3 separate regions of the Homo sapiens genome follow, and all the other regions are linked to region 2. The links come from fine-mapping of genetic effects on gene expression. A gene starts in region 2. Each other region holds a variant in brackets. All regions are shown on one strand. Distances are from middle to middle. Region 1 overlaps AK5 (adenylate kinase 5). Region 2 holds the start of ZZZ3 (zinc finger ZZ-type containing 3). Region 3 has its middle 8.8 kb from the start of MIGA1.

Region 1 (4,352 bases), 120 kb after region 2:
ACAATTCTATCCCAGAAATGGATCCTTATCTGCACAGCCATTGAAGAAAAAAAAAAAAATTCATGCAAACTGAAACTATGCTTTTTTGTAGTGACTGAGTGGAAGATGCAGTTATTCCAGTAGAATATATAAGCAGCTCTGATTTTACAACTGATTGATAGCACAAAAGAGAACCCAAACTTCACTGGTTTAATGCAAGGAAACACAGTTTTGCATATGGGTATGACAAGGTTTGCAAACTCCTGGAAAGGGCCCATATGAAACAAACACATTGAACACACCACTTACTGACATGCCCCTCCCACCCACATCAGGTTTGTTAGGGTATTTTTTTACTTGCTTGGCAACAAATAAATACATGGGTGACCATTTAAAATCAAAATTATAATTTGATATGTGCCCAATGAATGAAATAGCAAATATCTCATGCTTTTAAGTTACTTTTGGTCATTTATATTAATTTATAATTGCTGAAATGCATCACCATGTAGAGAAGAGACTAGGTTACACAATTTATCAGATTTGTTCTCTTAGCCATGACGACAGTATTCCAAGTTTCTAAAAAATAATAATAATAGAGAAGGTTACTGATGACTAACCTGGGTTTTACCATCATCTTGGGAAAGCTATACATCTTCATATTTTAAAATTTCTGTCAAATTTTACTTGCTTGATGCCTCTATATCATGTACAAGGCATTGTGTAATCAACCCACCTTATGGCTCTGAGCCACCAGTGGATGAGAGTTGACAAAACAGCCAGACACCAAAGGAAGATGCCCAGGGCTGTCCCCTATGCCAGGGGCCTCCATTGGGGAACAGTATGTAAGAGGAAGGTGTGACTGGGGGTTAGGGATGCTTAATGAGAGGAGAACCAGATGATCAGGGTCTAGCAAGGCCTGTGATCACAACGGACACAGACTGGCACCGCACCACTGTTCATGTACTGACTAGCTCTGAGTGTGGCCTGCATGATACAAAGTGTGTGTGCCGTGAGTGCAGACAGTTGTCTGAAGTGTGGAGAATAGGTTGATATAGTCCCAAATACACCATGCATGATTTCCAGACACCTCTCACACAGGTCTAGCTGGGAAGCAAACAGTGCTGTCAGGATTTAGGAGGTGGTGGTTGGTGGGGGCGGTGACACAAAAGGTTTAACTTGAAACATTGTGTTAAGGAATGAACTTTTTAATGTTTTTCTGTTTCCATTCTAACAAACATGCATTTTTGCCTTCAGAAAATAGAGTCAATAGCTGTGCAGAGTTGAAGAAAAACGTCCTCTGGTGTTCCCTCTGCATTTATCTATATTTAAAAGGAAAAAAAGAGAGTTAGTCTGAAATATCTGTAAATCATGTTTAATAATGAAAGAACACTATCACTTGCTCATAATTTGCTCTGCAAAATTTTAAAACACAAGACCCCCCCCAAAACACAGAGAAAAAAGTGAAGAGTAGTTTTAAAACTAGGTGTCTCAATTAAAAAAACAATGAAGTACCACTACACATCTATTAGAATAGCCAAAATCCAAAGCACTGACACCGCCAAATGCTGGTGAGGACATGGAGCAATAGGAACTCTCACTCATTGCTTGTGGGAACACAAAATGGTACACCCACTTCAGAAGACACTGCAGTTTCTTAAACTGAACATACTCTTACCATACTTTTTAGCAATTGCACTTCTTGGTGTTTACCCAAATGAGCTGAAACCTGAACATCTACCCAAAAACCTGCATATGGATGTTGACAGCAACTTCATGCATAATTGACAAAACTTGGAAGCACCCAGGATGATCTTCAGTATTTTAATGGATGGATAAACTGATATATCCAGATGGACAGGGGAATATTATTCAGCACTAAACTTAAATATATATTACTCAGTGATACAAGCTCCTCTGAAGAGGGTACATATTGTATGGTTCCAATTATATGACATTCTGGAAAAGTCAAAACTGGAGGCAGGTTTAAAAAGATCAATGATCGATGAACAGAGGGCGGTGGGGGGTGGGATGAGTAGGTAGAGCACAGGATTTTTAGAGCAGTGTAACTAGTATATGGGAACTCTATGCCCAATTCTGCAGTGAAGCTAAGACTTCTCTAAAAAGGAAAGTCTATTTAAAACAATAAGTGCCTATTTAGGTAAAACATTGCTAGGGGTCATGGAAAGACTTCGGAGTTACTTAAAATGAGACTTCTGAGTGTTCTGCAGCATTTGGGAATAGGGGAGAGATTGAGGGATGAGGGAGAGAGATGTGGAGAAGAAAGCAAAAGACTAGGACCGCAGTGTGTAGGTGTGCTAAGGTAGAGTCCGCTTGGAGACTGTTGGCATGCTAGCCCAAGGAGGACATATGAAGGGAAGCTGATTTTCTGGGCACGAAAGTACTGCCCCTTCTCCTCTCCTAACGCACCCACC[G/A]CTGAGATTTGTTCCATTACACCTGTATCATCTACAGAAAGTAAAGGCCTGGCCAAGCACGGGAAGCACCTGGGAGGCCAGGGAAATGCTGGTGGTATGCATCAACTTCCATGAGTGTCACCCAGGTTACTTTGGTAAAGTTGGTTATGAGGCATTACCTCTTAAAGAGAAACCAGAGCTTCTGCCCAACTCTTGACCTTGACAAATGTGGACCTTGGTCAGTCAGGAGACATGAGTAATCACACGCTGACAAAAAAAAATAATAATAAATAAAACAGGCTGGAGCTGCTCCCATCATTGATGGAGTGCTATGGGCTACTGCAGAATTCTGAGGAAGGGAAACTCCCAAAGTAGCCTGCTGTCACGAAGGCCAAGTTCTTCGGCAGGAGAGCTGGGAGAAGATTAAGGGTGTATATGTGGGGGGAGGTAGGGAGGCTGTGTTCTGGTGGCTTCAAGCCACAAGGAGGGAGCTTAACTAAATGCTAACAAACGAAAAAAGGAAAAAAAAAAGGTAGAGGGTTGGTGATCTACATGAGTCATGTGGGGGGCGGGCGGTGGTAAGCTTGCTAAAACACAGCTTTCCAGGCCATAACTGCAGAGGGTCTTGGTTGGTGGGTTTGGGCTGGGTCTTTAATCTGTATATTTAACAAATTCTCCACATGATTTTGTTGTGGGCCATCTTGGAGCACACTTTGAGAAACACAAAGTTTTCAAACACACATTTACAAGCACACTTTGAGACTCTTGTCTACCTATTTAAATCTTCTTTGTGCAAACTAGTTTGAATTTTTCTTCCCCTAGGGCTTTCACTGCTTCCAGAGGTAGAGTGAATTCTCAACAATATCAACAAAAAGAATGCTGCATGTTCAGATAGTGGAGAAAATGGATACAACAATATTAACGGAAGCACTGTTTGTCGTTCCCCAACTGGAAAAATCCTGTATGTCCATTAGCAATAGATGGATAAATTGTGACATAGTCATATAATGGAATACTATAGTAATTAAAAGAAAAAGAACCACAGCTATCTTCAACAACATGGATTAATTTCACAAACTTGAGAGACACAAGCCAGTCTCAAGAATATGAATACAGTATGGTTCAGTTTATATAAGGTTCAAAAACAAAGCTATATTGGTTAGGGATCCATACATAGGCAATAAAGTCATAAAGAGAAGCAAGGAAATGATTATCACGAAATCCAGGACATGAGTTACTTCTTGGGGAGAGGAAGGAAGCTGTGACAGGGGAGACATATGGGGAGGGTGGAGCTTCTGCAACTCTCTTCTATTTCTTTTCCTGCATGGTGGTTACATGAGTGTTCATTTTATTCCTCAAACTCTACATACTACTTTTATGCATTCCTGTATGTATGATATAGCCCACAATAAGGAAAAAATAAGTTTTTTTAAAGTTCTTTTTCCCCTCTCATAAATATACTTCATCCTTACAGGAGACTCAAAGATAGCAATCTGCAATTTGTCTGTCCAGCTACAGGTTCTACATCTGGATGGTAGGGGCTTTGCCTTTGCCATGTTCATGGCCCCCACAGCACCTTGCTTATTGCTTTACTTCTTTCTTCTTTTCCTTTCAACCAACAAGCATTTCCTGGTTATCATCAATGTTTTGCAGTTAACCAAGTTGAACGAGAAACAATGGTCCTGTTTTCCAAGAGCTCACGCTCAGTGGTAGAGATGAACATTCAACAGGAATTTACACTGTTAGGAGATAAGCACAGGAGCTATAAGGGCACCTTCCATAATGTGGGGAGGGCAGAGAAGCTTTCTGAGGAAAGTAATAATTGTCATCATTTAAAATGATAAATATTACTAGTAATGGCACAGGAATGCTTTTTAAATAACCAAAGTAATCCTATCAATGATCTTAGAAGTATTGTTATCCCAGTTTTACAGATGATGAAACAGGGGCTCTGAAAGA
Region 2 (4,000 bases):
GACACCGCGCCCGGCCTCCCCCACCCCCGTTTTTTTTTGACATACTGCCACCCAGAAACACTAGTATGTTCAATAAATACTTGATGTGTTAAAAACATGTAACCCTTTTTCTTGAAGTAGATGTTACTTTGAGTTGAACTCAAAGCTAAAATACAAAACACCATTTAAAACATTTAATAACTTTTATTAGCAACATAAAAGAAGGCACAACACGTATCCACTTGCCCGAAAAAAAAAATAGTGTTGCAAAGGAAAACAAAAGTAATGAAACAGCACTGGACAATTGTCAAAGAAGAGCCCCAGTTAACGGCTTCTACCACTGGATTTTATATTTTTGGAACATAATCTTTATAGCCACGGAAGGAGGTTTAGCTGTTTTTCCACAGCTCATAAATGATGAAGTTATTTATCTTCATTAATGTGTGTTGGGCTTTATTTTCCTACATGCTCAATATAGTTGGTAGATCTGTTTTGATATTACTGAGCACTGCTTTGTGCCAGACACAATTCTGGGGATACAGCAATGAGCAAAACAGTTTACTAAGTCCCTGCTTTTAAAAATTTTACATTTCTGGTGGTGAGGATACTGACAAATAAGGTCTGGAAGTTGTAACTGTTATGAAGAAATAAAAGCAGGTGAAGAGTTAAAGCAATGGTGCAGGTGTACTTTTTTTGGATACAGTGGTCTGGGCAGCCCTCTGAGAAGGGACCTGAAATATGCATCGAACATCGAGGAGTTAAAAAAAATCTGGAGGAAATGTTCTGCCAGAGAAATCGGCAAGCACAAAGGCCCGAAGTGGTTCGAGCCTGCGTGCTGTGGTACAAGCCAGAGGTGAACGAGGCGAGGCAGAAGCACGATCATAAATACATGTATGGATGTTCTCCTGGCTTGAGACCACAGTGCTAAGGGAGGTGGGGTTTACAAATCTCTCAGGAGGCCACAAAGGGCAGGATGAAGCCGATTTCCAATGGCGGAGCTACGAGGACGCCTTTCCTCTGCTAGGGCCAGGTTGGACGGTTGCAAGGGATGGACTGCAACCCGCCCTCGGAAGACCAAACTTCGCCCAGGGGCAGGGACTGGCCGGGGAGGGCCTCGGCGGCGCCCGACCCGCGGGCGCTGCACGGGCCGCGGTTACCAGCAGGCGGTGTAGTGAGCGCGCCTGCAGCAGCAGCAACAGCAGCAGCAGCGGTCGCCGCCGCCGCCGCCGCCCGCCAGTCCCAACGAGGAGAAAGGAGGGGACCGGAAGGAGCCGCTGGTGCTGCGGGAAGTGGCAGGAGCGGGAGGCGGGGACCCACCTGGAAGCGCCGCGGCGCCGCTATCGAGCTTCCTGCAGCGGTGGCCACCCGAGCAAGTGCCGTGGCGGGGGCGGAGAGCGGCCACGGCGGCGGCGCCTCCCCAAGTGGCCCGTTGCGTCCGACCCCGCGTGAAAGGTGAGCAAGAGCTCGGGACACGTGGTGAGGGCCAGACACGGGGGAGGGAGAATGAAGGGGGAGGGAATGGGGGTGGGAAACGATCGGCTTGGGACCCGGATTTGGAGCCAAGTACCGGGAGGGGGTGGGCTGGAGGCGACGACTGCGACGGCTGCGACGGCTGCGACGGCGAAGCCCCCACGTGGGGCGGGGGTGCGCGCGCACGTGTGCGCGGGCGAAAGGGGGGGCGGGGAGGGCTTTTGGGAGGGCGTCGGGAGCGCGCTCGCTCAGTAGCGGCCCACGTGACGGGCACGCCGAAAATGTTTCCACGTGACAGGGAGGCTGCCTGGGGCAGCGCACTGCGCTCTGTTTATGTAGTATAATCGTGGTAATCGGAGGTTTTTAAGATTTCTGCTTTTCTGTACAAGGGGAAAGGAGGAGACGTATAAAGCGGAAAGACTTCCTACTGTCTCAGTGTTTTAAATGTTCACTACTCCGTTAGTGAAGTGCTTTTTAAGTTCCGAAATACTGATTTTTTTCTGTACCGCCATGTTGGGTCTAGTGGAAGCTCGCGAGATGCGAGTGGGTTTGTATCGCGAGATCTCTCGATTCTCGCGGGACCTCGTTGGCAGAGCAGTTGTCCTGGATGGCGGAGCCTTGGGTTCCGGGGGCCTGGGACCTGCAACTCTTTCTACAAGGCAAGTCGTTAGGGAGGGGCCCGGGGCGAGTGCCTCTTGGTGCCGGGATACGTGCTGCATCAGCTTCCCATAGTCTTGAAGGGAATACAGTAACCCCATTGAGGCAACACTGCCCTCCCCATCCCCCTGCGGGCGCTCCACCACCTGCAAAAGCATATGCACCCCTCAGCCAGGTCCTTCTCCCCACGCAGTGATAGTTCCACCCTGTCCCACTCACTGGAAGTCCGGGAGCCGTGCTCGCGCAGACCTGATGATTCCATTGGATACCGTTCCTCTTACTTTAAGATGTTCTTGTCAGTTTTTCCCTTCTTGCCATTTTCTAAAGTATTCCAGACCGGTTAACTATTGTGTCGCGTTTTCTGCTGCAGTACCTGACTCCAGTCTCCTGAAACAGAACTCCTCCCATCTATTTTCTCTGGGTGTCATTTACTCATCACCCTGACTTCGTATTTTCAGTAACTTTTGGCAGTATTTGGAGGGCCCATTATGTCTCTGACAACACCTGTGGTCAGAATAAAATCCTGCTTTTCATCATTTTGTACGTGCCTATTAACTCAGTTATCGGTAGGGTTTTAATTACTACTGTGTTACTGAGGTTGCCATCTTTGAAGTTTAGGGATGGTTGTTTTAGGTTATATATTTAAGGTAACAGACTGTTTCATGTGATTTTTTTTTTTTTTTTTTTGAGACGGAGTCTCGCTCTTGTCGCCTAGGCTGGAGTGTAGTGGGGCGATCTCGGCTCATTGCAACCTCCGCCTCCCGGGTTCAAGCGATTCTCCTGCCTCAGCCTCTCGAGTATCGAGTAGCTGGGATTACAGTCGCGCTTCACCACGCCCGGCTAATTTTTGTGTTTTTAGTAGAGACGGGGTTTCACCATGTTGGCCAGGCTGGTCTCAAACTCCTGACCTCAAGTGATCCACCTGCCTTGGCCTCTCAAAGTGCTGGGATTTCAGCACTGTACAGGCGTGAGCCACCGCGCCCGGCCTCAGGTCAACTTTTTAGTAAAGAGCAAACTCATAAATTTTGGCATCAGAGTTTGAGCTTTATTTTTCTTAAATGAGTTTGAAATCAATTTAATATTTCTCTCCAATTCCCTAATGTCTCAGAAGTGAATTTACAGTATACCTTTGTTTTTTCGTATTCTTAAGTAGTATTTGGATTTTATTTAGTAGTTGCAGTACTAAATAAGGAGTGGGGAGTTAATTACAAAACGAATCAGGTGACTAGTTAATTTATTCATAGTTTGTTTTTTAAAACTACAAAAGTGTTTTTTTTTCCTATACATAATACAGAGAGGTATATAGTATAGAGTAACACAGTGCTTGTTTCACGGTACCACAAAGTTCCATTCCTCAGTCTTAAATCTCTGTAACCAGCCTTTGTGGTTGCTGTGTATCATTCCAGATATTTCCATATTTTGGTTTAGTTTTTGTTTCTTAAATGAAGGGGAGAAAGTGTTGTTTTAATGGGGTACCAACACAATATTGGCAATCAGTAAACATTTTTTAACTAAATTAAATTTTTATTTAGTGATATATGCCTGTTTGTCAAGACTTACGTATGCATACTTACGCAGATTTTTTTTGTTTGTACTGATTTTTTTGGTAGTATAATCTTGTGAAAATATCACAAGTAACTTATTTTTGCAGTAAAGTTGATTTATTGTGCTTGGTAGCTTTGCACAGAAAGAAAGTACATGTAAAACAAGATTTAAATAAATTAATGTTTTATCACTTGAGTTTTATATTTTTATCTTTAATGTGTGTTATGTATTTAACTTTATATATTATATATTCTAAACTGTAACCTAACTATATAGGAGTTTTTCAGACGTTTTAAAAGTTTATCACTGTGATTAAAATGATAGTTTGACCATGCAACTTAGTGATCTC
Region 3 (4,352 bases), 88 kb before region 2:
ACCTTAAAAAAAAAAAAAAAGAACATAGAACAATCCTGGCACATATTTCTAAGATATATGGCATATTAAATGAGACCCTTCAGTGCGTCTTTTAACAGAGGCTCCAAAGCTGAGAAAAATAAATGTGAAGTACCCTGAGCATTCTAAAAGAGGATGCCAGACCATCCCCATAGGACATGCTGGAAGACTGTGAAGCCAGTTTAGCAATCCTCAGTTCTCACACACCTCCCAGGAATGATATGTCAGGATTGATGAAAGAAGGTTGTAGAATAAACATGCCTGGAAGGGCCAGGCTTGGTGGCTCATGCCTGTAGTCCCAGCACTTTGGGAGGCTGAGGCAGGTGGATCACTTTGAGCCCAGGAGTTCAAGACCAGCTTGGGCAACATGATGAAAACCAGTCTCTGTAAAAATGCAAAAACTAGCTGGGTGTGGCTGGGCACACCTGTAGTGTCAGCTACTCGGGAGGTTGCGGTGGGAGGATGACATGGGAGGGTGATGGCATGAGCCCAGGAGATGGAGGTTGCAGTGATCCAAGATCGTGCTACTGTACTCCAGCCTGGGTGACAGAGCCAGACCCTGTCTCAAAAAAAAAAAAAAAAAGCCTGGGAGACAGTTTTCTGGAGTGCTGTGCATTTTTGTTCCCCTTCCCCAGGAGTGGGAAGAAGAGAGTGCTTATCCCACGCCATCTCCACCTCAAGCCAAGTAAAGGAACTTTAAGAAATTCAGACAGGTTGACTCTGTGCCCTGGATTTATGTTACCTGGAAAAGTCTAAAAGCAATAGGCTATCTAGAGAAGCCTTTGATGGCAGAACAGAGAGAGAGAGAGGCCTACAACAGAAGGGGCCTGTACTTGCAACTTTGCAAGAAAAATTTTCCTGTGGACCATGTGAGTGTCACAGAATGTAGCCAGGCTTGAATTATATTAGAAGGTTGTATCTTCAAACCAGGTTTAAATTGACCATCTAAATGTTCAGCCACAGGTTTTTTTGTCCAGGATTGGGGAATGAAACAGTAAGAGGTCCCCAGCAAAGGAGACAGTCATTGAGGAACATACAAAAGGGACAAGAAAAGAGCCAGCATCTAGGAGTGAGCCACATGCAGAAGGTACCAAAGTCAGACTTGTTTTTATTTATTTATTTAGATAGAATCTCGCTCGCTCTGTCACCCAGGCTGGAGTGCAGTGGCACAATCTTGGCTCACTGTAACCTCCACCCCCTGGGTTTGAGTGATTCTCCTTCCTCAGCCTCCCAAGTAGCTGGGACTACAGACTCATGCCACCACATCCAGCTAATTTTTCTTTCTTTCTTTTTCTTTTTTTTGAGATGGAGTCTCGCTCTGTCGCCCAGGCTGGAGTGCAGTGGCGTGGTCTCGGCTCACTGCAAGCTCCTCCTCCCGGGTTCAGGACATTCTCCTGCCTCGGCCTCCCGAGTAGCTGGGACTACAGGCGTCCGCCACCATGCCAAGCTAATTTTTTGTATTTTTAGTAGAGACGGGGTTTCACCATGTTAGCCAGGATGGTCTTGATCTCCTGATCTTGTGATCTGCCCCCCCTTGGCCTCCCAAAGTGCTGGGATTACAGGCATGAGCCACCGCATCTGGCCCTAATTTTTGTATTTTTAGTAGAGATGGGTTTCACTATGTTGGTCAGGCTGATCTCAAACTCCTGACCTCAAGTGATCTGCCCACCTCGGCCTCCCAAAGTGCTGGGATTACAGTCGTGAGCCACCGTGCCCAGCATCAAAGTCAGATTTAATTGCACTGGTTGGGTATATCTGATA[C/T]TTTATTTAGAATAGTTAGGGTCGGCCGGGCGCGGTGGATCACAGCTATAATCCCAGCACTTTGGGAGGCCGAGGACGGGCGGATCACAAGGTCAGGAGAGCCAGACCATCCTGGCTAACACCGTGAAACCCCGTCTGTACTAAAAATACAAAAAATTAGTCAGGCGTGTTGACGGAGGCCTGTAGTCCCAGCTACTCGGGAGGCTGAGGCAGGAGAATGGCGTGAACCTGGGTGGCGGGGCTTGCAGTGAGCTGAGATCGCGCCACTGCATTCCAGCCTGGGCAACAGAGCGAGACTCCGTCTCGAAAAAAAAAAAACTAAGAATAGTTAGGGTCACTGCTCATTCCATCTGAAACAATATGTGGCCAATGTACTTCATGAATGATTGATTAGTGGAAACAACATTTATCAAGTGACGACATTAAGCCTGAAGAAAGAAGTCTAGCACATTGAGGTTGTAAAAGCAATTATATCACCTAAGTAGATGAACACTTTTAGGTAATTTGTAGCTCCAATTACTTTTTCTACTAACTGCAAAAACTTGGCAGTCCCCAGAAATACCTCAGGGCCTCCTTTCAAATATATACAATGCTATAGGTCACATATTGGCCATTATAGCTTTAGTCTCACTAACCTCTGAAAGTATTTTACAGGACCCTTCTATGAGTCAGAACTAAGCTAACCAAGGCATCTAGAACTCAAAGTATGGTTTTAGATGCTAATTTAGAACATCTATTCAGAGTATAGTGGTATGTACATATCCAAATACTACAGATTCAGTTCCTCAAAACGTTAAATACAGAGTTAGCATATGGTCCAGCAATTCTACTCCTAGGTAATACCCAAGAGAAATGAAACATACGTTCATACCAAAACTTGTACATGAATATGCATAGCAGCATTATTCTTTTTTTTTTTTTTGAGACATAGTCTCACTCTGTCACCCAGGCTGGAGTGCAGTGGCACGATCTCGGCTCACTGCAACCTCTGTTTCCCAGGCCCAAGTGATTCTCCCATCTCAGCCTCACGAGTAGCTGGGATTACAGGCACCCGCCATCATGCCAGCTAATTTTTGAATTTTTAGTAGAGAGTGGGTTTCACCATGTTGGCCAGGCTGGTCTCAAACTCCTCGCCTCAAGTGATCCTCCAGCCTGGGCCTCCCAAAGTGCTGGGATTACAGGCGTGAGACATCGTGCCTTGCCTAGCAGCATTTTTCTTTTCTTTTTTTTTTTTTTGAGATGGAATCTCACTCTGTTGCCCAGGCTGGAGAGCAGTGGTGCAATCTCGGCTCACTGCAAGCTCTGCCTCCCGGGTTCACACCATTCTCCCGCGTCAGCCTCCCGAGTAGCTGGGACTACAGGCGCCTACCACCATGCCTGGCTAATTTTGTTTTTGTATTTTTAGTAGAGACAGATTTTCACCGTGTTAGCCAGGATGGTCTCTATCTCCTGACCTCATGATCCACCCGCCTCGGCCTCCCAAAGTGCTGGGATTACAGATGTGAGCCACCACGCCCGGCCTCAGCAGTATTCTTAATGGCCAAAACATAGAAACAACTCAAATGTCCATCAACTGATGAATGAATAAATAAAATGTGATATATTCATGTGATATTATTTGGTCATAAAAAGGAATAATGAACTGATAAATGTTATAACATGGACGAATCTTTAAAACATTATGTTAAGTAAAGAAGCCTGTCAGGTGGGGCACGGTGGCTCACGCCTGTAATCCCAGCACTTTGGGAGGTGGAGGTGGGCAGATCATTTGAGGTTAGAAGTTCAAGACCAGCCTGGTCAACATGGTGAAACCCCATCTCTACTAAAAATATAACAATTAGTCGGGCATGGTGGTGTGCACCTGTAGTCCCAGCTACTTGGGAGGCTGAGGCAGGAGAATGGCTTGAACTCAGGAGGTGGAGGTTGCAGTGGCCAAGACTGCACCACTGCACTCCAGCCTGGACGACAGAGGGAGACTCTGTCTCAAAAAAAAAAAAAAAAAAAAAAAAAGCCTGTTACAAAGACTGTATATTGTATATGGTTCTAATTATATGCAATGTCCAGAATAGGCAAATCTATACAAAGAGGAAGCAGCATAGTGATTGCCTAGAGCTGGGAGAGTTGAGGGGAAATTTAAGTGACTGCAGAAGGATACAGGGTTTCTTTCGGGAATGGTGAAAATGTTCTAAATTTATTTATTTATTTTTTATTTTTATTGTTTATTTTTATTTATTTACTTATTTTTGAGACGGAGTTTCCTTCTGTCACCTAGGCTGTAGTGCAGTGATGTGATCTCAGCTCTCTGCAACCTCTGCCTCCTGGGCTCAAGCAATCCTCCCGCCTGAGCCTCTTGAGTAGCTGGGACTACAGGTACATGCCACCATGCCCGGCTAATTTTTGTATTTTTTGTACAGACAGGGTTTCTCCATGTTGGCCAGGCTGGTCTCGAACTCCTGACCTCAAGTTATCCTCCCAGTTTGATCCTTTTTCAAAGAGAGAGAGAGAGAGAGACATCTGTGTTCTATTGGAAGGTATTTACATCAAAATGTAAAATAACTAATAGACACCACAGA

Evidence for each region. PIP is the estimated chance that this variant, and not a neighbour inherited with it, causes the effect.
Region 1: its variant is the best candidate, but not a certain one, in a credible set for the expression of ZZZ3 in whole blood (TOPMed, PIP 0.83).
Region 3: its variant is the best candidate, but not a certain one, in a credible set for the expression of ZZZ3 in lung (TOPMed, PIP 0.50).

Annotation. Positions count from the first base shown.
Region 1 is chr1:77,555,551-77,559,902 of GRCh38, reverse strand. It overlaps AK5 (adenylate kinase 5), which reads right to left. Exons shown (of 14, transcript NM_174858.3): 14 at 1-1,301. The coding sequence ends at 1,233. Among named protein-coding and RNA genes, the nearest start is that of ZZZ3, 120 kb to the left of the region's middle. The variant G/A (reference allele first, on the strand shown) is at 2,415.
Region 2 is chr1:77,680,693-77,684,692 of GRCh38, reverse strand. ZZZ3 (zinc finger ZZ-type containing 3) reads left to right here and starts at 2,035. Exons shown (of 15, transcript NM_015534.6): 1 at 2,035-2,108. RefSeq lists enhancers at 780-879, 309-1,082, 1,900-1,979 and silencers at 1,030-1,089, 1,100-1,519.
Region 3 is chr1:77,768,634-77,772,985 of GRCh38, reverse strand. No RefSeq gene overlaps it. Among named protein-coding and RNA genes, the nearest start is that of MIGA1, 8.8 kb to the left of the region's middle. RefSeq lists enhancers at 2,068-2,257, 2,738-2,967. The variant C/T (reference allele first, on the strand shown) is at 1,780.